Regions from separate parts of the Homo sapiens genome. Here regions 1 and 3 are each linked to region 2. Evidence: fine-mapped expression QTL. A gene starts in region 2. Each other region holds a variant in brackets. All regions are shown on one strand. Distances are between the middles of the regions. Region 1 has its middle 45 kb from the start of ZNF239. Region 2 holds the start of ZNF239 (zinc finger protein 239). Region 3 has its middle 33 kb from the start of ZNF239.

Evidence for each region. PIP is the estimated chance that this variant, and not a neighbour inherited with it, causes the effect. A credible set is the group of variants that fine-mapping cannot tell apart.
Region 1: its variant is the best candidate, but not a certain one, in a credible set for the expression of ZNF239 in whole blood (INTERVAL, PIP 0.73).
Region 3: its variant is the best candidate, but not a certain one, in a credible set for the expression of ZNF239 in whole blood (TOPMed, PIP 0.66).

The regions. Positions count from the first base shown.
Region 1 is chr10:43,526,100-43,533,744 of GRCh38, reverse strand. No RefSeq gene overlaps it. Among named protein-coding and RNA genes, the nearest start is that of ZNF239, 45 kb to the left of the region's middle. The variant T/C (reference allele first, on the strand shown) is at 4,049.
Region 2 is chr10:43,570,217-43,577,861 of GRCh38, reverse strand. It overlaps ZNF239 (zinc finger protein 239), which reads left to right and starts at 3,246. Exons shown (of 4, transcript NM_001099282.2): 1 at 3,246-3,322; 2 at 4,185-4,225. RefSeq lists a silencer at 3,464-3,523.
Region 3 is chr10:43,538,074-43,545,718 of GRCh38, reverse strand. No RefSeq gene overlaps it. Among named protein-coding and RNA genes, the nearest start is that of ZNF239, 33 kb to the left of the region's middle. RefSeq lists an enhancer at 1,012-1,525. The variant C/T (reference allele first, on the strand shown) is at 3,899.

The sequences.
Region 1 (7,645 bases), 44 kb after region 2:
GTGTGGGAAATTTTAAACACATCATTAAAATTATTAAATTAAGGGCACATTTACATAAGATTATGATGAGTTCCTGTGACAAAATCAACACATATAATCTTTCTCTTATAAAGCACACTCGCAGAGGGCATTGCAAGATGGCCGAATAGGAACAGTTCTGGTCTGCAGCTCCCAGCATGATCAACGCAGAAGACGGGTGATTTCTGCATTTCCAACTGAGGTACCTGGTTCATCTCATTGGGACTGGTTGGACAGTGGGTGCAGTCCACAGAGGGTGAGCTAAAGCAGGGCAGGGTGTTGCCTCACCCGGGAAGCAAAAGGGGTCAGGGGATTTCCCTTTCCTAGCCAAAGGAAGCTGTGACAGACTACCTGGAAAAATGGGGCACTCTCACCTAAATACTGCACTTTTCCCAAGGTCTTAGCAACCGGCAGATATGGTGATTGTCTCCCGTGCCTGGTTTGGCAGGTCCCACGCCCACAGAGCCTTGCTCACTGCTAAGGCAGCAGTCTGAGATTGATCTGTGAGGCAGCAGCCTGGCTGGGGGAGGGGCGTCTGCCATTGCTGAGGCTTGAGTTGGTAAACAAAGTGGCCCGGAAGCTCAAACCGGGCACAGCCCACCACAGCTCAACAAGGCCTATTGCCTCTAGGCTCCATCTCTGTGCGCAAGGCGTAGCTGCACAAAAGGCAGCAGAAACTTCTGCAGACTTAAACGTCCCTGTCTGACAGCTGTGAAGAGAGCAGTGGTTCTCCCAGCACAGTGTTTGAGTTCTGAGAACGGACAGACTGCCTCCTCAAGTGGGTCCCTCACCCCCATGTAGCCTAACTGGGAGACACCTCACAGTAGGGGCCAACAGACACTTCGTATAGGTGGCTGCCCCTCTGGGACAAAGCTTCCAGAGGAAGGATCAGGCAACAATATTTGCTGTTCTGCAATATTTGCTGTTCTGCAGCCTCCACTGGTGATACCTAGGCAAACAGGGTCTGGAGTGGAACTCCAGCAAACACCAACAGACCTGCAGCTGAGGGACCTGACTGTTAGAAGGAAAACTAACAAACAGAAAGGAATAGCATCAACATCAACAAAAAGGTCATCTACACCAAAACCCCATCTGTAGGTCACCATCATCAAAGATCAAAGGTAGATAAAACCACAAAGATGCAGAGAAACTAGAACAGAAAAGCTAAAAATTCTAAAAATCAGAGTGCTTCTTCTCCTCCAAAGGATTGTGGCTCCTCGCCAGCAATGGAAAAAAGCTGGATGGAGAATGACTTTGACGAGTTGACAGAAGTAGGCTTCAGAAGGTCGGTAATAACAAACTTCTCGGAGCTAAAGGAGGATGTTCAAACCCATCGCAAGGAAGCTAAAAACGTTAAAAAAAAAATTAGACAAATGGCTAACTAGAATAAACAGTGTAGAGAAGACCTTAAATAACCTGATGGAGTTGAAAACCATGGCACGAGAACTTCGTGACGCATGCACAAGCTTCAATAGCCAATTCAATCAAGTGGAAGAAAGGGTATCAATGATTGAAGATCAAATTAATGAAATAAAGCAAGAAGACAAGGTTAGAGAAAAAAGACTAAAAAGAAACGAACAAAGCCTCCAAGAAATATGGGACTATGTGAAAAGACCAAATCTACATCTGATTGGTGTACATGAAAGTGACAAGGAGAATGGAACCAAGTTGGAAAACACTATTCAGGATATTATCCAGGAGAACTTCCCCAACCTAGCAAGGCAGACCAACATTCAAATTCAGGAAATAAAGAGAACACCACAAAGATACTCCGCGAGAAGAGCAACCCCAAGACACATAATTGTCAGATTCACCAAGATTGAAACAAACGAAAAGATGTTAAGGCAGCCAGAGAGAAAGGTCGAGTTACCCACAAAGGGAAGCCCATCAGAGAACAGACCTCTCGGCAGAAACCCTGCAAGCCAGAAGAGAGTGGGGGCCAATATTCAACATTCTTAAAGAAAAGAATTTTCAACCCAGAATTTCATATCCATCTAAGCTTCATAAGTGAAGGAGAAATAAAATCCTTTACAGACAAGCAAATGCTGAGAGATTTTGTCACCACCAGGCCTGCCTTACAAATGCTCCTGAAGGAAGCACTAAACATAGAAAGAAACAACCAGTACCAGCCACTGCAAAAACATGCCAAATTGTAAAGACCATCGATGCTATGAAGAAACTACATCAATTAATGGGCAAAATAACCAGCTAACATCATAATGACAGGATCAAATTCACACATAACAATATTAACCTTAGATGTAAATGGGCTAAATGCTCCAATTAAAAGACACAGACTGGCAAATTGGATAAAGAGTCAAGACCCATCAGTGTGCTGTATTCAGGAGACCCATCTCATGTGCAGAGACACATATAGGCTCAAAATAAAGGGATGGAGGAGATCTACCAAGCAAATGGAAAACAAAAAAAGGCAGGGGTTACAATCCTAGTCTCTGATAAAACAGACTTTAAACCAACAAAGATCAAAAGAGACAAAGAACCCCATTACATAATGGTAAAGGGATCAATTAAACAAGAAAAGCTAACTATCCTAAATATATGTGCACCCAATACAGGAGCATCCACATTCATAAAGCAAGACCTTAGAGACCTACAAAGAGACTTAGACTCCCACACAATAATAATGGGAGACTTTAACACCCCTCTGTCAATATTAGACAGATCAACAAGACAAAAGGTTAACAAGGATATGCAGGACCTGAACTCAGCTCTGCAACAAGCAGACCTAATAGACATCTACAGAACTCTCCAGCCCAAAGCAGCAGAATATACATTCTTCTCATCACCACATAGCACTTATTCTAAAAGTGACCACATAATTGGAAGTACAGCACTCCTCAGCAAATGTAAAAGAAATCACAACAAACTGTGTCTCAGATCACAGTGCAATCAAATTAGAACTCAGGATTAAGAAACTCACTCAAAACCACACAACTACATGGAAACTAAACAACTTGCCCTGGAATGACTACTGGGTAAATAACGAAATGAAGGCAGAAATAAAGATGTTCTTTGAAACCAATGAGAACAAAGACACAACATATCAGAATCTCTAGGACACATTTAAAGCAGTGTGTAGAGGGAAATTTACAGCACTAAATGCCCACAAGAGAAAGCAGGAAAGATCTAAAATCAACACCCTAACATCGCAATTAAAACAATCAGAGAAGCAAGAGCAAACAAATTCAAAAGGTAGCAGAAGGCAAGAAATAACTAAGATCAGAGCAGAACTGAAAAATATAGAGATACAAAAATACCCTTCAAAAAAATCAATGAATCCAGGAGCTGGTTTTTTTTAAAAGAGCAACAAAATCGATAGACCACTAGCAAGACTAATAAAGAAGAAAAGAGAAAAGAATCAAATAGACACAATAAAAAATGATAAAGGGGATATCACCACTGATCTAACAGAAATACAAACTACCACCAGAGAATACTATAAACACCTCTATGCAAATAAACTAGAAAATCTAGAAGAAATGGATAAATTCCTGGACACATACACTCTCCCAAGACTAAACCGGGAAGAAGTTGAATCTCTGAATAGACCAATAACAGGCTCTCAAATTGAGGCAATAATTAATAGCCTACCAACCAAAAAAAGTCCAGGACCAGACGGATTCACAGCTGAATTCTACCACAGCTAGAAAGACGAGCTGGTACCATTCCTTCTGAAACTATTCCAATCAATAGAAAAAGAGGGAATCCTCCCTAACTCATTTTATGAGGCCAGCATCATCCTGATACCAAAGCCTGGCAGAGACACAACAAAAAAAGAGAATTTTAGACCAATATCCCTGATGAACATCAATGCAAAAATCCTCAATAAAATACTGGCAAACTGAATCCAGTAGCACATTAAAAAGCTTATCCACCACGATCAAGTGGGCTTTATCCCTGGGATGCAAGGCTGGTTCAATATATGCAAATCAATAAACATAATCCATCACATAAACAGAACCAACAACAAAAAACCACATGATTATCTCAATAGATGCAGAAAAGGCCT[T/C]TGACAAAATTCAACAGCCCTTCATGCTAAAAACTCTCAATAAACTAGGTGTTGATGGAACATATCTCAAAATGATAAGAGCTATTTATGACAAACCCACAGCCAATATCATACTTAATGGGCAAAAACTGGAAGCATTCCCTTTGAAAACCAGCACAAGACAGGGATGCCCTCTCTCACCACTCCTATTCAACATAGTGTTGGAAGTTCTGGCCAGGGCAATCAGGCAAGAGAAAGAAAAAAAGGGTATTCAATTAGGATAAGAGGAAATCAAATTGTCCCTGTTTGCAGATGACATTATTGTATATTTAGAAAACCCCATCATCTCAGCCCAAAATTTCCTTAAGCTGATAAGCAACTTCAGCAAAGTCTCAGGACACAAAATCAATGTGCAAAAATCACAAGCATTCCTATACACCAATAACAGACAAACAGAGAGCCAAATTATGAGTGAACTCCTATTCACAATTGCTACAAAGACAATAAAATACCTAGGAATCCAACTTACAAGGGATGTGAAGGACCCCTTCAAGGAGAACTACAAACCACTGCTCAACAAAATAAGAGGACACAAACAAATGGAAGAATATTCCATGCTCATGGATAGGAAGAATCAATATTGTGAAAATGGCCATAATGCCCAAAGTAATTTATAGATTCAATGCCATCCCCATCAAGCTACCAATGACTTTCTTCACAGAATTAGAAAAAACTACTTTAAAGTTCATATAGAACCAAAAAAGAGCCCGCATTGCCAAGACAATCCTAAGCAAAAAAAACAAAGCTGGAGGCATCAAGCTACCTGACTTCAAACTATACTACAAGGCTACAGTAACCAAAACAGCATGGTACTGGTATCAAAACAGATATGTAGACCAATGGAACAGAACAGAGCCCTCAGAAATAACACCACACATCTACAACCATCTGATCTTTGACAAACCTGACAAAAACAAGAAATGGGGAAAGGATTCCCTATTTAATAAATGGTGCTGGGAAAACTGGCTAGCCATATGTAGAAAGCAGAAACTGGATCCCTTCCTTACACCTTATACAAAAATTAATTCAAGATGGATTAAAGACTTAAATGTTAGACCTAAAACCATAAAAAACCCTAGAAGAAAACCTAGGCAATGCCATTCAGGACATTGGCATGGGCAAGGACTTCATGACTAAAACACCAAAAGCAATGGCAACAAAAGCCAAAATTGACAAATGGGATCTAATTAAACTAAAGAGCTTCTGCACAGCAAAAGAAACTACCATCAGAGTGAACAGGCAACCTACAGAATGGGAGAAAATTTTTGCAATCTACCCATCTGATAAAGGGCTAATATCCAGAATCTACAAAGAAGTCAAACAAATTTACAAGAAAAAAAACAAACAACCCCATCAAAAAGTGGGCAAAGGATATGAACAGACACTTCTCAAAAGAAGACATCTGTCTGGGTGCGGTGGCTCATGGCTGTCATCCCAGCACTTTGGGAGGCTGAGGCGGGTGGATCACGAGGTCTGGAGATCGAGACCATCCTGGCTAACATGGTGAAACCCTGTCTCTACTAAAAATACAAAACAAAAAAAATTAGCTGGGCATGGTGGCAAGCGCCGGAGGCTAAGGCAGAAGAATGGCATGAACCCGGGAGGCAGAGCTTGCAGTGAGCCAAGATCACGCCACTGCACTCGAGCCTGGGCAACAGAGCAAGACTCCGTCTCAAAAAAAAAAAAAAAAAGAAGACATCTATGCAGCCAACAGACACATGAAAAAATGCTCATCACCACTGGTCATCAGAGAAATACAAATCAAAACCACAATGAGATACCATTCTTGCCAGTTAGAATGGCAATCATTAAAAAGTCGGGAAACAACAGATGCTGGAGAGGATGTGGAGAAATAGGAACACTTTTACACTGTTGGTGGGAGTGTAAATTAGTTCAAACATTGTGGAAGACAGTGTGGCGATTCCTCAAGGATCTTGAACTAGAATTACCATACGACCCAGCAATCCCATTACTGGGTATATACACCCAAAGGATTATAAATCATGCTACTATAAAGACATATGCACACATATGTTTATTGTGGCACTATTCACAATAATAAAGACTTGGAACCAACCCAAATGTCCATCAATGATAGACTGGATTAAGAAAATTTGGCACATGTACACCATGGAATACTATGCAACCATAAAAAATGATGAGTTCATGTCCTTTGCAGGGACATGGATGAAGCTGGAAACCATCATTCTCAAAAAACTATCACAAGGACAGAAAAGCAAACACCACATGTTCTCACTCATGGGTGGGAATTGAACAATGAGATCACTTGGACACAGGAAGGGGAACATCACACACCAGGGCCTGTCAGGGGATGGGGGGCTGGGGGAGGGATAGCATTAGGAGAAATACCTAATGTAAATGATGAGTTGATGGATGCAGCAAACCAACATGGCACATGTATACCTATGCATCAAACCTGCACATTGTGCACATGTACCCTAGAACTTAAAGTATAATAAAAAAAAAAAAGAAGAAATCCACTACAGAAGGAACCAAGGAATTTAAGCATCAAAATTCCCACCTGCCCCCCACCATTTTTTTGTGAGCCCAGGATGGCTTTGAACTCCCAGGCTCGAGCAATCCTCCCCAGTCAGCCTCCAGATAATTACAGGCATGAGCTACCAAGCCTGGTTCATCTTCTCTGATTTTTCTCAATGTCACTTGAGTCTTTTGTGGCCCACACTAGTTAGGGGAATAGCCTGATCATCTGGCCAGATCTAAACTGAAATATCTGATGAGGCAGCTATATTTGGAGGGGCTGACCTGAGATATAGAAGATTAAGATCTGGTACTGAGGATTCAGGCTTGTAAGGGAAAGCTTCGAATGCAAATTATATGCACCCTAATTTTTTTTAACCGATTCTTTCTTCTGGTTATAATTTACTTTTTTTGGAGATTGCATATATTTACACTTATTTGCTAGGTGCTTGTATTTCTTTTCTGAATTGCCTTTTCATCTTGATGGTGTATTTTTTGTTCAGTCACTTAGAATAAAAATTCAAGTGTGAAGAAAGAAAAATACTTTAAGGCTTAGAAATGTAACCTTTTGCTTTATTTTAGAAATTTTTATTTATATGATTATGCATTTCCTAGATACTAGTTCTTTCTGTTCAAGGCCATTTACTCCAACACCCAAGTGGATTTCTTGATTGCAGATTTATTACTATAGGATGTATTTGGGTAGAATTATTTCTTCCCATTATACTGGCCTTATTCACACTTCTGTGCTTTAACACAATGAAAAATTGCTTTAACATTGAAGTTCTGTATTGAGTCCCACAAGATATTATTCCCTTACAGCGCTTGTATTGTAAGCTGCAAACTGAACATTTGAAAAATCAAAATGAAAGCATGTAGCATAAAGGTCTGCCTTTTTTTTTTTTTTTTTTTTGAGACAGAGTCTCACTCTGTCGCCCAGGCTGGAGTGCAGCAGAGCGATCTCGGCTCACTGCAAGCTCCGCCTCCCAGGTTCACGCCATTCTCCTGCCTCAGCCTCCTGAGTAGCTGGGACTACAGGGACCCGCCACCACGCCTGGC
Region 2 (7,645 bases):
GGGTCTGAATAGAGGCTGGTTAAGGGGTATGTATTAGTCTTTTTTCACACTGCTATAAAAAAATGCCTGAGACTGGGTAATTTATAAAGAAAAGAGGTTTAATTGACTCACACTTCCACATGGCTGGGGAGGCCTCAGGAAACTTACAATCATGTTGGAAGAAGAAGCAGTCACCTTCTTCACAAGGTGGCAGGAGAGAGAAGAACAAAGGAGGAACTTCCAAACATATCTCACAAACCATCAGATCTTGTGAGAGCTCACTCACTGTCATGAGAACACCATGGGGGAAACTGCCCCTTGTGATCCAATCACCTCCCTCCCTCCACTTGTGGGAATTACAGGTCCCTCCCTCAACACGTGGGAATTACAATTCAAGATGAGATTTGGGTGGGGACACAGAGCCAAAACATACCAAGGTGTAATACACAGTTAGACAGAAAAAATAAGACCTGGTGTTCAATAAACCAGTAGGTTAGCTATGGTTAACATTAACCTACTGTACATTTCAAAATAGCCAGAAGAGAATCATTTGAATATTTCCGGCATACAGAAAAGACAAATACTTGGCGATAGATATCCCAATTTCCCTGCTTTGATCTTTACACATAATATTAATCAAATTATCACATGTACCCCCAAAATATGTGCATCTATTATATACCAATTTTTAAAATTAAGTTAAAAATTAAATTTTGGGTTTTGCATGTGAAAAAAGAGAGAATATGGGAGAAAAGAAATTGGAAACATCCCTTAGGGACAATTTTTTTAGGAGTTTTGCTGTAAAGCAAAGCAGAGAAATGAGGTAGTGGCTGGAGAGAAATAGGGTGCAAGGTAAGGGGTTTTATTTATTTTATGGACAATATTACAGTGTATTCATTAGTATGCTGATAATTCAGTACAGAATGAAAATCTTGAAATACAGAAGAGAGAGAAGGACCTCATTCATGAGAAAGCATTTAACATCCAGGGTGCAAAAGAATTTTCTCATATAGGAACTAGGGCCAGTGACTCAGAATGAAAAGTAGAGCATACAGTTTCTAATGCAGAGAGGAGGGCAGATGTGCCTGTGAGGCGGTATAGAAGTTCTCTTTACTCAGTAACAGAAAGCAAAGTCATCAGCACTCAGTGAGATGGGAGGAGTTGTTGGCGGCTTGAAAAGAGAGTAGAAGACCAGGCATGGTGGCTCAGCCTGTAATCCCAGCACTTTGGGAGGCTGAGGTGGGACGATCGCTTGATCCCAGGAGGTGGAGACCAGCCCGAACAACATGGTGAAACTTCATCTCTTAAAAAAAAAAATACAAAAATTAGCCTGGTGTGGTGGCGCAAGCCTATAGTCCCAGCTACTTAGGAGGCTGAGGTGGGAGGGTTGCTTGTGCCCAGGAAGCAGAGATTGCAGTCAGCCAAGATCGCACTACTGAACTCCAGCCTGGCTCAAAAAAATAAATAAATAAATAATGAAAAGAGAGTAGAACCTGTGAAATAGTCATTTAGGAGAATGGATGGACTAAGAAATGTAGAAGGATAGCCAGGCAGCGTGAAGGGCCCACTTGAACTTAATGGTTATAAACTGAAAATGAAACCAATCATCCCAGCCATGTGGTTTTCTCAAACAACCTCTGCCGTACAGGCGCAGGCCAGGAACTGGATTCAAGCAGATTTGGGTTTCCATCAAGAGAATAAAACCAAGAAAGACTGGGACAAGAGAGTTAAGGGTAACGGCACATACACAGGACTGGCCATAACCATGCTCCATGGCCTCTTAAATTGAGTGAGGAGAGAAGTGAGCACATGAGGAAGTGAAGGTCAGGGCAAGGGTGGTAAATCTAAATAGGGAAAAGCTCTGTGGTTTTCCAATGAAGAATGAGGAGAGGAGTAAGGTCCAAGGGAGACATTTTGTGTTCCCCAGGCAAAAGGTAAGACAGCATCTCTGAGGAGGAGACCGAAGGGGACGTGGGCCTCTCCAAGCATCGCAGGCTGAAAATAATAGTCCCCCAAATATGTCCATGTCCTAACCCCCAGAAGCTGTGGATGTTAATTTCTATGGCAAGAGGGATTTTTTTTGAAATGTGATTAAATTAAGGATCTTGACGTCAAGAGATTATCCCAGATTAGCCAGCTGGGCCTGATGTAATCACAACAGTCGTTATTAGAAGGACCCACGAGGAGCCAGTGCCTGAGCATGTGATGTGATGATGAAGGCAGAGGTTGCAGTCATGCACTTTGAAGATAAAGGAGCGAGCCATAAGCCAAGGAATGCAAATAGTCACTGGGAACTGGAAAAGGCAAAGAAATATTCTCATCTAGAACCTCCAGGAGGAACTAGCCCCACCAACACTGACTTTATAAAGCCCAGTAAAACTTGATTTCAGACTTGGCACCTCCAGAAGTTTAAGAGAATACATGTTTGTTATACTACTAAGTTTGTGTTAATTTGTTGTGACAGCAATTGGAAACTAATACACCAAGGAAGGGGGAGGATGTAGAAGAGAGGTCCAGGCAACATCTCTTTCCTCTCCAAAATAAATCTGAAAGAAAGGAATTGGGAAAAGACCAAATGGGTAGCTCTGTGTCACTCGGTGAGAAGTGAAATAAACGTAAAATCCTGGTATCAACAACCCTTGTGTGCGTTTAGGAGAGTTCTGACTGCTGGGAGCCACTTGTCTAATTCCCTCACCTCCTGTGTTTGTTCCAAGATCCCCTATTTAAAATTGCAAAGTACACCTCCAGTCCTACACACCCACAAACGCACCTCGCCACACCCCGCCCAGCTCTATGCTTTCAGTACCACCTCATGACACACACGACGCCATATATTTACTATATTTATGGATTGCTTGTTTCCCCAACTAGAATAGGGCAGTGACTTTTGTGCAAGCATCTTGAACAGCTCCTGGTACACAGTTGGCTCTCAATTAATATCTGTTAAATGGATGAACTTCAGAGGTGAGATGGAAGATGCCGAATGGCAAATATTCACTTCAGAATGTTTTGAAAGGTAAAGATGAAATTATGGGTATTTACATCCTTTTCCCCCAATAGTATTTTAACAAATGAAAATCACCTTAACAGGTATTCCTAAAATAATTCTTATTTGTTTGTAATAAAAAACGAGGAGGAGGACTTGAATACACGCGTCGCTGACTCAAAGATGGTCCCCTCCGCCCAAGAATCCCGCTCCGCACAGCGCAGAGTTCAGGGGCCCGCGCCGGAAGTGGGCGTGGTTCGCCCGCGGCTTGCTGGGACTTGTATTTCGGGGCCCTAGGCGCGCGAGCGGTCAGCATCCGGAATCTGGCCCCTGCAGGCGTGGGGTTCCACGTGGGAGGTGAGACTGGCCGGGCTTCCCCAGCCGCTGGCAGAGGCGTTCAGGGGTCAGGAAATGGGTGTGCCGCGGGTAAGGCGCTGGGCCGCCGAGCTGCGGAAGCCGGGAGGGCGGCGATGGTAGGGCACGCGACCAGCGGAGGCGCGGCCCGCGGCGGCACGTGTGTCCCGGCGCCGCATTTCCGAGCTGCTGCGCCCCCGGGGCCGGGCTGCGGCCACACCGAAGCCTGTGGGGCCCTGCAGCTGAGCGGCCGCGCCTCCGATGGCCCCTCCTCCCTCCTGGCCGAGCTCTGGCCTGGGCCGGCTGGGGGCTTCGTGGTTGGCCACGCCGGCCTTTTCCTCGCCTGTGACGGGCGTTATTGCAGGGGGGTTTTCGGTGGACGTTAGGCGACGGACGGGGGCTCCTGTAAGAGACTGAGGTTTCTGTCCGCAGCACTGCCTTCGCTGAAAAGAGCTTGCATCTGAGCCCCCGCACCGCAGGAACGAGCCAGGCTCCTGAGAATGAGGTCGGGGAAGGCGTCTTGGGCAACCGAAATCCATCCCGAGAAGCTTCTCCTCTTAACTAGAACTTTAGGACAGAGATCGGGAAAGTCAGAGGAAATGGGCACGGCTTCGAGCTGCCGGCGGCTGCGGAATTTACCTAGCCTCTTGGTTTTGGGGGGAAAACTTGGCTTGTTTAATCGAAAGCCCTGTGGAGAGAGATGAAGGTGGTGACAGAAAATGCTTCACCTCTCACCTGATGGAGGGAGTGTGGGTGGAAGTGACTGAAGAAGCGTCAGAGGCAGGAGCGGAGTAACTTTTTCCCCGCAGTCTTGCTGGACTTGATTTTCATGGCTTTTTCTCTTTCCCTAACTCTGCCTTTCCAGGAATCCATCCCCTCTGGGAGTAAGAAATGACCAGGGTCCGGGTGAGTTGGCGTTCCATTTCTCCTAAAATGCCATCTCCCTGAAATGTCCCTGTGCCATGTGTTGTTTTCTTTATTGTCAGGCCCCCAGTACGGTATTTTATAGCTATGGATGTAGGGACATTAAGATACTAAGGACATGTAGCTAGCAGATGATGTCACCAGGGTCTGCACAGAGAGTTTTCACTGGCCCATCCTGCCTCCAAGAATTTATTCCACTCCTCAGAGCAGTGGGCTGTGCCCTCCTGGGGAGCCTCTCAAAGCCTGCCTTTTCCTGCCAGACATTTCACTCACATTGAAAGTCATTCCAAGCTATTCCATACTCATCCCAGTGCTAAGTGGTCTCAGCAAAACAGATAGAATGATAAACCACGGTGCTTTTCTTCAAGGAGCTTACCATCTTGATGAACATATTATATTACCTGTACACAAAAAAATGCATATTAATAGTGATAATTTATTAACTATGAGTCAAAAACGAGGAAATTCGTTAAATGGCAGCACAGTGGTTACAAAATCACTCTAGAAATGCTTTTCAACTAGGCTATGCATCAGAACTCTCTGTGGTGTTTTTTAAGAACTAAGCTTCCTTCTCTCTTCCAGACCTAGTGAAAGGAGAGTTTCACTCCTTTTTTATTCTGTTGATCTTTGTACATCCAAAGGTTTATTGTGAAATATCTCTCTATACACTATAAGTGTCTCTAGGGTAGGTAAAATGAGTTATTCATCCTTTATACTCAGGTTGATTTGTTCTCTTTCACTAGCATGTCTACATATTTAACTGTTCCAGTAAATTTTAAATTACCAAGTCGTACTTTTTTAAAGAGAGTTTTCAGTTGTCCCCATAAAACCATCTGTAGGAGGTTACCTCAAAATTAACCCTTAGACTCCCAGGGTATTTGAGATGGTCAGCCCCCACTTAGAATCCCATGGTGTTTGAGATGGTCGGCCCCCTCTTTGCCCTGTCCTGGCGTTTTATGGTGGAGAGCTCTAACTCGGCTAACTCTGAGAGAGCCGAAGGAAAGTGCCTTGTCCTTTGTTTCAGAGAGCAGAAGGCCAGAAATAAACCCCGTGTTTTCTTCCTTCAGGCTGTTCTTTCTCCATTAACTAAACAGGTCATCACATCAGAAGTTGTTTGAATAAAATATCAGACTGCGTTTTAAGGGAAAAAAAATGTTTTTTAACACTACCAGCAAAGGCCATCTTTTTGCTTGGCAAATACAGCCCTCACACACATGAGCTCTTAGAAAAAATCTGTTTAGAGGACAGTAAGCTGACTTGAGGTACTGAGAGCATGGCTTCTCTGTGCCCTGAAAAGTAATTGAGGACTTCAAGGGAGATTAACCTTAGTAGAATCAATACATTTTCCTTCCTTCGCTTCTGCCTGCTCCCTAATGATTAAGTATTCACTGCCGCTGCAACTGGGGATTGCCAGTTTAGTAAATTTTGAGATTCTGGTGTGTGTTACACAACAACTTTTTTAATTTAAAGGAAGGACTTCATTCCAAGCATTGTGTGTTTTCTATGTACCACACATTGTCCTTAGGTCTGCTGAAAGGCGGGAGTCTTAGTTAACCCTGCTTTTCCTCTGTGACATTGGGTAAGTCACTTCGCCCTTATGAACTGTGGTTTTTTTCTCTGTAAACTGAGGGTCTTGGGCTTGACCATCTTTATGTTTTCTTTTAGTTGTATTATTATTCATTTAAATTGAATGTGAATTTATATTTATCTTTCAGATTCCAAGTCAATTGTGGTAGTTGCTGGGGATTTAAAGATGAGTTGAGGCCAGACATGGTGGCTCACACCTGTAATCCCAGTACTTTGGGAGACTGAGTGGGGAGGATCACCTGAGGTCAGGAGTTGAGACCAGCCTGGCCAACATAGTGAAACCTCATCTCTACTAAAAATACAAAAATTAGCTGGTCATGTTGATGCCTGTTGTAATCCCAGCTACTCGGGAGGCTGAGGCAGGAGAATCTCTTGAACCCGGGAGGTGGAGGTTGTAGTGAGCTGAGATCATGCCACTGCACTCCAGCCTGGGCAACAGAGTGAGACTCTGTTTCAAACAACAAAGATGAGTTGAGTGTAGCCCCTATCCTTCAGAATCTTCCAGCCAACTTGGGAGAGACTTAATAGCTATAGTAGAGGGATGTGAAAGATGCTATGAGATCTCAGAGGAGGAGAATTCTAACTCATCCTCATGCTTCAGAAAGAGGCTATTGTCCTGAGACTGAAAGCTCCAAAATGGATGGGAGAACTCAATAAGTTAGGGCTTACTATAGAAAGGACTGTGCTAGACTCAAGTGTAATGTGTTGAATGACTCCAGGTAATCTAGTGTGCCTCTTCCTGCTTTTCCACTTCAAAGTAAATTGTTAGATACAGCAGAGATGGGCTCTAGAAAGAAGTGGAAGGCCACATGATGGCATGTATGTAGTTCTGAGGAGGTCGACATTTGTCTGATAGAAACAGGAAACAATTGAACTTGTGACCTTCCTCTTTGGTTGGCCTTTAGAATATCAAGTCTGCTCTCCCAACTGTAAGCAGGAGCACAGCCTTGGAGTGACTCCTTAGTGCCACTGATACCTGGGAAGACTGTTGATTATTCAGTGTTTCAGTCCCACCTTTGTCTTGCTTTAACAGGAGCACTAATTTCCTTTCCTTTTCTCCTTTCCCTTGTCACAATGATTCTTTTCATTTGGTCTACTCCTGTCATTTTTTTTACCTACCACAAAGTTAGTAGTCCACCAACATATCCTTTCCCTTCTCAGAATGGAGTCCCGCCTGCCATTTTATCTTGAGGACCTTAAAAAATTAATAACTCTGGTTGTCTAACCTAGGGACTGGAAGATGACAAAAATTGTACTACAAAGAATTGGTAAGGAGTTATTGTAGCCTAGGTAAGAAAAAAAATAAGGGTCTTACTAAGACTGGCAGTGGAAATGGAAAAGAGGTAACACATTGGAGGGAAATTTAGGAGGCAGAATTGACAGGATCTGAAATGGTTTGAATATTGTTGAGGTAGAGAAGGAGGATTAGACAATCCAGACAACTGAATGGAAGACGGATAAAAAAATAAGGGAGAGAAAAGATAATTGGTGGGCTTGCATCTCTGAAGATAGAAGAAGGGATTTGATCTAGAATGCACAGGAAGAGATTAGCCTTAAACAGAAAGAAATTTTTTTTTCTCTGTGGTCTGAAGAGAAGGTCTGGTTGGGAAGAGCAGCCAGTCCACTTGCTTTTAATATGCCATGGGTCATGCCTTGCTAAAGGATGTGGTGATGGAGCTTGAAGGCAGCAACCTTTGCTTCTGTTTGTTTGTCCCACCTTTACTCCGGGGCTTGAGCCTCCTTTTCCAGCCCTCTTCCTCAGAATGGAGACCAGTGACCTTGAACAGAAAGCTTGGGAGACAGCACCCATCCTTA
Region 3 (7,645 bases), 32 kb after region 2:
CCTCTTTCCATTAGTGTCTACCCTATGAGATGGAACCTGGATGTCCTGCCTAGGTAATATTTTTGCAAACACCCAAGCATTGATGACTCTTTGTACTCCAAAAGCAAACCTCAGTTACTTGCAATTTTTAGAAGCTCTGTTTATGCAAATGTTTATAAAAATAAGGGACAGCAATCATTAAACTACTTCACAGATTCACCTCAACACTTAAAGAGTACTTGGCATGTAGGAAAACGTGTCCTTTGTGCTGTGGAAACTATGGTGACCACTCCTGTCTTCACAATAAAATAGAGATTGATTAAATAATGAACAATGCAACTATGGATTTTTTTTTTTTGAGAAAAGGTCTGGATCTGTCACCCAGGCTGCAGTGCAGTGGCGTGATCATATCTCACTGCAAACTGAAACTCCTAGACTCCAGTGATCCTCCTGCCTCAGCCTCCCAAAGCACTGGGATTACAGTGCCACTGTGCCTGGCCTCACCCATGGAATTATAAATGGATATAGCATCCATGAAGATCATTATGGGGCACAATGAAAGTATGTAAGATTGTAGTAAGAAGGTGGGTGGCACAAGACATTTTAGCATCTTTTGACACAGCATTTGGATACCAGAATGTTTGAAAACATTTAGAAATGTAAACACACTTATCAGAATTATACCAATACCAGTGAATTTGCTTTGAAAGAGGATTTTCTGCAGCAAAACAGTGACGCCTATTTTATTTTATTTTATTTTATTGTTTTATTTTATTCTATTTTTTGAGACAAAGTTTTGCTCTTTCGCCCAGGCTGGAGTGAAGTGGCGTGATCTCATCTCACTACAACCTCCACCTCCTGGGTTGAAGCGATTCTCCTGCCTCAGCCTCCCGAGTAGCTGGGATTACAGGCGCCTGCCTCCACGCCCAGTTTATTTTTGTATTTTTAGTAGAGACGGGGTTTCACCATGTTGGCCAGGCTGGTCTTGAACTCCTGACCTCAGACAATCCACCCACATCAGCCTCCCAAAGTTCTGGGATTACAGTGAGCCACAGTGCCCTGCTGCCTCTTTTTTTTTGTTTGTTTGTTTGTTTTTTTAGTATTTATTGATCATTCTTGGGTGTTTCTCAGAGAGGGGGATGTGGCAGGGTCATAGGATAATAGTGGAGAGAAGGTCAGCAGATAAACACGTGAACAAAGGTCTCTGGTTTTCCTAGGCAGAGGACCCTGCGGCCTTCTGCAGTGTTTGTGTCCCTGGGTACTTGAGATTAGGGAGTGGTGATGACTCTTAACGAGCATGCTGCCTTCAAGCATCTGTTTAACAAAGCACATCTTGCACCGCCCTTAATCCATTTAACCCTGAGTGGACACAGCACATGTTTCAGAGAGCACGGGGTTGGGGGTAAGGTAATAGATTAACAGCATCCCAAGGCAGAAGAATTTCTCTTAGTACAGAACAAAATGGAGTCTCCTATGTCTACTTCTTTCTACACAGACACAGTAACAATCTGATCTCTCTTTCTTTTCCCCACATTTCCCCCTTTTCTTTTCGACAAAACCGCCATCGTCATCATGGCCCGTTCTTGATGGTCGCTGTCTCTTTGGAGCTGTTGGGTACACCTGCAGAAAGGCTGTCACTTCACACTTGGAAGATTGCACAGCAGCCAGGCAGAGGCGCTTCTCACTCCCCAGACGGGGCAGCCGGGCAGAGGCGCTCCTCACTCCCCAGACAGGGCAGCCAGGCAGAGGCGCTCCTCACCTCCCAGACTATGGGTGGCAGGGCAGAGGTGCTCCTCACTTCCCAGATGATGGGCAGCCGGGCAGAGGTGCTCCTCACTTCCCAGATGATGGGCAGCCGGGCAGAGGCGCTCCTCACTTCCCAGACGGGGCGGCCGGGCAGAGGCACTCCTCACCTCCCAGATGCCTCTTTTATTCTTAAGTGAATTTTCAATTCTGCATAATTTAATCTTTTCCAATTTTTCTAATATTATCTTTGCATAAATTATTATAACCTGTATCAATTATTTTCTATATAAATTTCACATGATGTGATCTGTCAATCAGGTGTTTATTTGTATAATGCAATGAATTTATGTGTATGATGTTCTCTTCTAGCTCTAAAAAAAAAAAAAAAAAAAGAAGCCAGGTGTGGTGGCTCACTCCTGTAATCCCAGCACTTTGGGAGGCCAAGGCGGGTGGATCACGAGATCAGGAGGTCAAGACCATCCTGGCTAACACGATGAAACGCTGTCTCTACTAAAAATACAAAAAATTAGCCGGGCGTGGTGGTGGGCACCTGTAATCCCAGCTACCTGGGAGTCTGAGGCAGGAGAATGGCGTGAACCCAGGAGGCAGAGATTGCAGTGAGCCGAGATTGTGCCACTGCACTCCAGCCTGGGGGACAGAGCAAGACTCTGTCTCAAAAATAAATGAATAAATAAAAATAAAAATAAATTAGCCAAGCATAGTAGTGGGCTCCTGTAATCCCAGCTACTCTGGAGGCTGAGGCAGAGAATTGCTTGAACCTGGGAGGTGGAGGTTGCAGTGAGCCGAGATCACACCACTGCTCTCCAGCCTGGATGACATAGCGAGACTCCGTCTCAAAAAAAAAAAAAAAGAAGAGAGAGAGACCTAAGATGATGTTTCCTCCTCCAGAGGAATTTTTCTTGCTGCTAACGGGGGACACACTCCTTGATATCTTTAAAGGAATTTCGTGTTAGGTGCAGTGCCTCATGCCTATAATCCCAACACTTTGGGAGGCCAAGGCAGGAGGATTGCTTGAGTCAAAGAGTTTGAGACCAGCCTGGGCAACTGGACAACAGACCCTATCTCTACAAAAAAAAAAAAAAAAAAAAAAATTCCTGGGCATGGTGGCACATGCCTGTAGTCCCAGCTATTTGGGAGGATCATTTGAGCCCAGGAAGTTGAGAATGCAGTGAGCCATGATCACACCACTGCACTCCAGCCTGGGCAACAGAGCAAGACCATATCTCAAAAAAAAAAATAAAAATAAAAGGAGATTTCAGGGCTGAAGAATGTTCTGGGCTTTCCAAACATCTTGAAGTCCACTGCAATTTGTGGGAAGGCTGATTTTCTTTTTGTTCATGCTACCTGTACAGAATCTTCCAAGGGTCCGGTCAAGGCAGAGGTATCCTGGTCCATCTCATCCATGGGCCACAGAGGTCTCTTTCTGCCCCATCATCCCTGCAACACCCTTAAAAGCAAACCTCAGCCTATTACCTCTCTCAGGTCAGCCTGAGTCTCCAGAGCAAAGGCAGCCTCATACGTTGTGCTGACATGGAATTCCCATTCTTTTTACATCATACCCCAGTGATCACTGTCTTATTATTTATGTGCTTAGAAAGAATGTTGAAAGTATTTTTATTTTTTTCGAGACAGAGTCTCACTCTGTCACCCAGGCTGTAGTGCATTGATGCATCTTGGCCCACTGCAACATCCACCTCCTGGGTTCAAGTGATTCTCATGCCTCAGCCTCCCCAGTAGCTGGGATTACAGGCATGTGCCACAAAGCCTGGCTATTTTTTGTATTTTTGGTAGAGATGGGGTTTCACCATGTTGGCCAACCTGGTCTCAAACTCCTGACCTCATGTGATCCGCCTGCCTCGGCCTCCCAAAGTGCTGATATTACAGGCAAGAGCCACTGCACCCAGCCTAAAATATTTTTTTCAGCTTTGTCCATTTTCTTTATTACACAGGTTGATCAAAATTATCTTGTCTACTTTTAATGGAATAATCCCCTACACGAGCAAAAGCAGAAGTTGTCTAAATGTCAAAATATAGGATATGGGTAAACCCAAATGCAGTTTTGAAAAGTGGAAAAATATTTGGCCATTAAGCATATTTTCAAGATAGAATGGGGCATGGAAAGAGTTCACAGCATATCACAAAATTTTAAATG[C/T]AAGTTACACAAGAACATTGGCTGGGTACAGTGGCTCACCCCTGTAATCCTAGCACTTTGGGAGGCTGAGCCAGGTGGATCACTTGAGGTCGGGAGTTTGAGACCAGCATGGCCAACATGGTGAAACCCTGTCTCTACCAACTCTACTAAAAATACAAAAATTAGCCGGGCATGGTGGTGAGCACCTGTAATCCCAGCTACTTGGGAGGCTTAGGCAGGAGAATCGCGTGAACCCAGAGGGCAGAGGTTGCAGTGAACCGAGACCACACCAATACACTCCAGCCTGGGCACTGGGCAACAGAGCAAGACTCTGTCTCAAAAAAGAAAGAATATTTAAGACATGATCTCATTTTTTTATAAGTATACATATACCCTAAAATCTAAACTGAAGTGTAAGAAACAAAGAAAAATTCAATCAATACAAAACAATTACTTGGGCCAGGCACAGTGGTTTGTGCCAGTAATCCCAGCACTTTGTGAGGCTGAAGCAGGAGGATCACTTGAGGCCAGGAGTTCAAGACCAGCCTGGCCAACATGGTGAAACCCCGTCTCTACTAAAAATACAAAAATTAGCTGGGTGTGATGGTGCAGACCTATAATCCCAGCTACTCAAGAGGCTGAGGCATGAGAATCATTTGACTCCAGGAAACTCATCACAGCCTTGACCTCCGCAGCTCAAGTGATCCTCCCACCTCAGCCTTCCAGTATGATTGCTTGGTGCTAGCACAGCCTTGTTAATCCTGAGCCCAGGGCCACTGTGTTAGCCCATTATCGCATTGCCATAAAGGAACAGCTGAGGCTGGTAATTTATGAAAAGAGGCTTACTTGGCTCATGGTTCTGCAGGCTGTACAGGAAGCATGGTGCCAGCATCTGCTCAGCTTCTGCTGAGGGCTTCAGGAAGCTTCCAATGATGCTGGAAGGCAAAGGGTGAGCCAGTGCATCACATGGCAAGAGAGGAAGAAGAGAGACCTGAGGAAGGAGGGGCCAAACTCTTTAAAACAACCGGCACTCAGCTCTCCAGAGAACTGACCAAGAACTCACTCATCACCAAGGGAATGGTGCTAAGCCATTCATGAGGGATCCGCCCCCATGATCCAGTACCTCACTAGGCCCGACCTCTGACAGTGGAGGTCATATTTCAACATGAAATGTGGAGGGGACACACATCCTGACCATATCAGCCATGAACCCAGGAACTATCAATGCTGAGGAAGACATGAGGGCCCTAACACTCCACGGAGACTGAGTGTGGTTCCTAATCTCTCTCAATTTCCCTTTCTCTTTAACAGAATGTTACTCTGAGACCACAGAACATGATGGCACCCAGGCGCTAAGCTGTACTTGTGCAGCCTTAACATCTGAGCTCCCTCTCCTGGACCCACTGAGCACGAGGCAGGGGGCACACATTAGACAAGTAATAATGGTTTGTTCAAGGCTTAGTTCCACTCTTCCAGATATAGATAATTCTACCCACTTATAGATGAAGAGATAGAGGCTCCAATGGGAGGAGAAAAGGCTGAGTAATTGGGGCCTGAAAGGCTCATTTTAAGCTTTTGTTATGGACTGAATGTTTGCGTCTCCTATGTTGAAGTCATAATCCCCAATACAGCTGTATTTGGAGATTCTGCCTCCAAATTACATCCTCAATTAAGGATGCAACTAAGGTAAAATGAGGTCATAAGGGTGGCATCCGGCTCTGATAGGATTGGTATCCTTATAGGGAGAGACATCAGGGAGCTCTCTGTCTCTCTCTCTCTCTGCACTGAAGCACCAAAGAAAGGCTATGTGAGACCAGGCACAGTGGCTCACACCCAAAATCCAGCACTTTGGAAGGCTGAGGCAGGTGGATGGCTTGAGGCTAGGAGTTCAAGACTAGCCTGCCCAACATGAAGAAACCCCCTCTCTAATAAAAATACAAAAATTAGCTAGGTGTGGTGGCACATGCCTATAATCCCATTACTCAGGAGGTTGAGGCAAGAGAATCACTTGAACCTGGGAAGCAGAGTTGCAGTGAGTCAAGATTGTGCCACTGCACTGCAGCCTGGGTGACAGAGCAAGACTCTTTTTTTTTTTTTTTTTTTGAGATGGAGTCTCACTCTGTCACCCATGCTGGAGTGCAGTGGTGCGATCTCAGCTCACTGCAAGCTCCACCTCCCAGGTTCATGCCATTCTCCTGCCTCAGCCTCCCGAGTAGCTGGGATTACAGGCATCCACCACCACACCTGGCTAATTTTTTTTGTATTTTTAGTAGAGATGGGATTTCACCATGTCAGCCAGGATGGTCTCAATCTCCTGACATCGTGATCCACCCACCTCAGCCTCCCAAAGTGCTGGGATTACAGGCATGAGCCACCGCACCCAGCCAAGATTCTGTCTTAAAACAAGAAAGAAAGAGAGAGAGAGAGAAAGAAGAAAGAAAGAGAGAGAAGGAAGGAAAGAAGGAAGGAAGGAAGGAAGGAAAAAAGGAAAGAAGGCAAAGAGACAAAGAGGAGGCTCATGCATGTAATCCCAGCACTTTGGGAGGCTGAGGCAGGTGGATCACCTGAAGTCAGGAGCTCCAGACCAGCCTGGCCAACACAGTGAAACCCTGTCTATATTAAAAATACAAAAATTAGTTGGGCATGATGGCTCACGCCTGTAATCCCAGCTACTCAGAAGGCTGAGGCAGGAGAATTGCTTGAACCTGGGAGGTGGAAGTTGTGGTGAGCCAAGATGGCACCACTACACTCCAGCCTGTGAGACAGAGCAAGACTCTGAAAAAAAGAAAGAGAAGAGAAGAGAAGGAGGGGAAGGAAGGGAAGGAGAGAGAAAGAAAGAAGAAAGAGAGAGAAAAAAGAGAAAGAAAGAAAAGAAAGAAGGAAGGAAAAATATCGGGGGAAACAGCCCCCAATATTTCAATGTAGATTCTTTCTATTTTCCATAAGTGATGGCTGGCTGAGAAATAAAGGAAAGAGTACAAAGAGAGGAATTTTACAGCTGGGCCTCTGGGGGTGATATCACATATCGATAGGACTGTGATGTCCACTTGAGCCACAAAACCAGCAAGTTTTTATTAAGGATTTCAAAAGGGGAGGGGGTGTACGAATAGGGAGTAGGTCACAAAGATCACATGCTTCAAAGGACAAAAGGCAGAATAAAGATCACATGCTTTTGAGGAAACAGGACAAGGGCAAAATCAGAACTACTGATAAGGATCTATGTTCAGCTGTGCACATATTGTCTTGATAAACATCTTAAACAAAAGAAAACAGGGTTCAAGAGCAGAGAACCAGTCTGACCACAAATTTACCATGGTGGAGTTTCCCAATCCTAGTAAGCCTGAGGGTACTGCAGGAGACCAGGGCGTATTTCAGTCCTTATCTCAGAGACTGCCTAAGACAGACACTCCGAGAGCGGCCACTTATAGTCCTCCCGCAAGGAAGGCATTCCTTCCCCAGGGTATTATTTATTAATATTTCTTGCTAGGAAAATAATTTAGTGATATCTTCCCTACTTGCACATCCTTTTATAGGCTCTCTGAAAGATGAAAAATATGGCTCTATTTTGCCTGACCCCACAGGCAGTCAGACCTTATGGTTGTCTTCCCTTGTTCCCTGAAAATCACTGTTATTCTGTTTTTTTCAAGGTGCACTGATTTCATATTGTTCAAACACACGTTTTACAATCAATTTGTACAGTTAACAAAATTATCACAATAGTCCTGAGGTGACGTATGTTCTCAGCTTATGAAGATAACAGGATTAAGA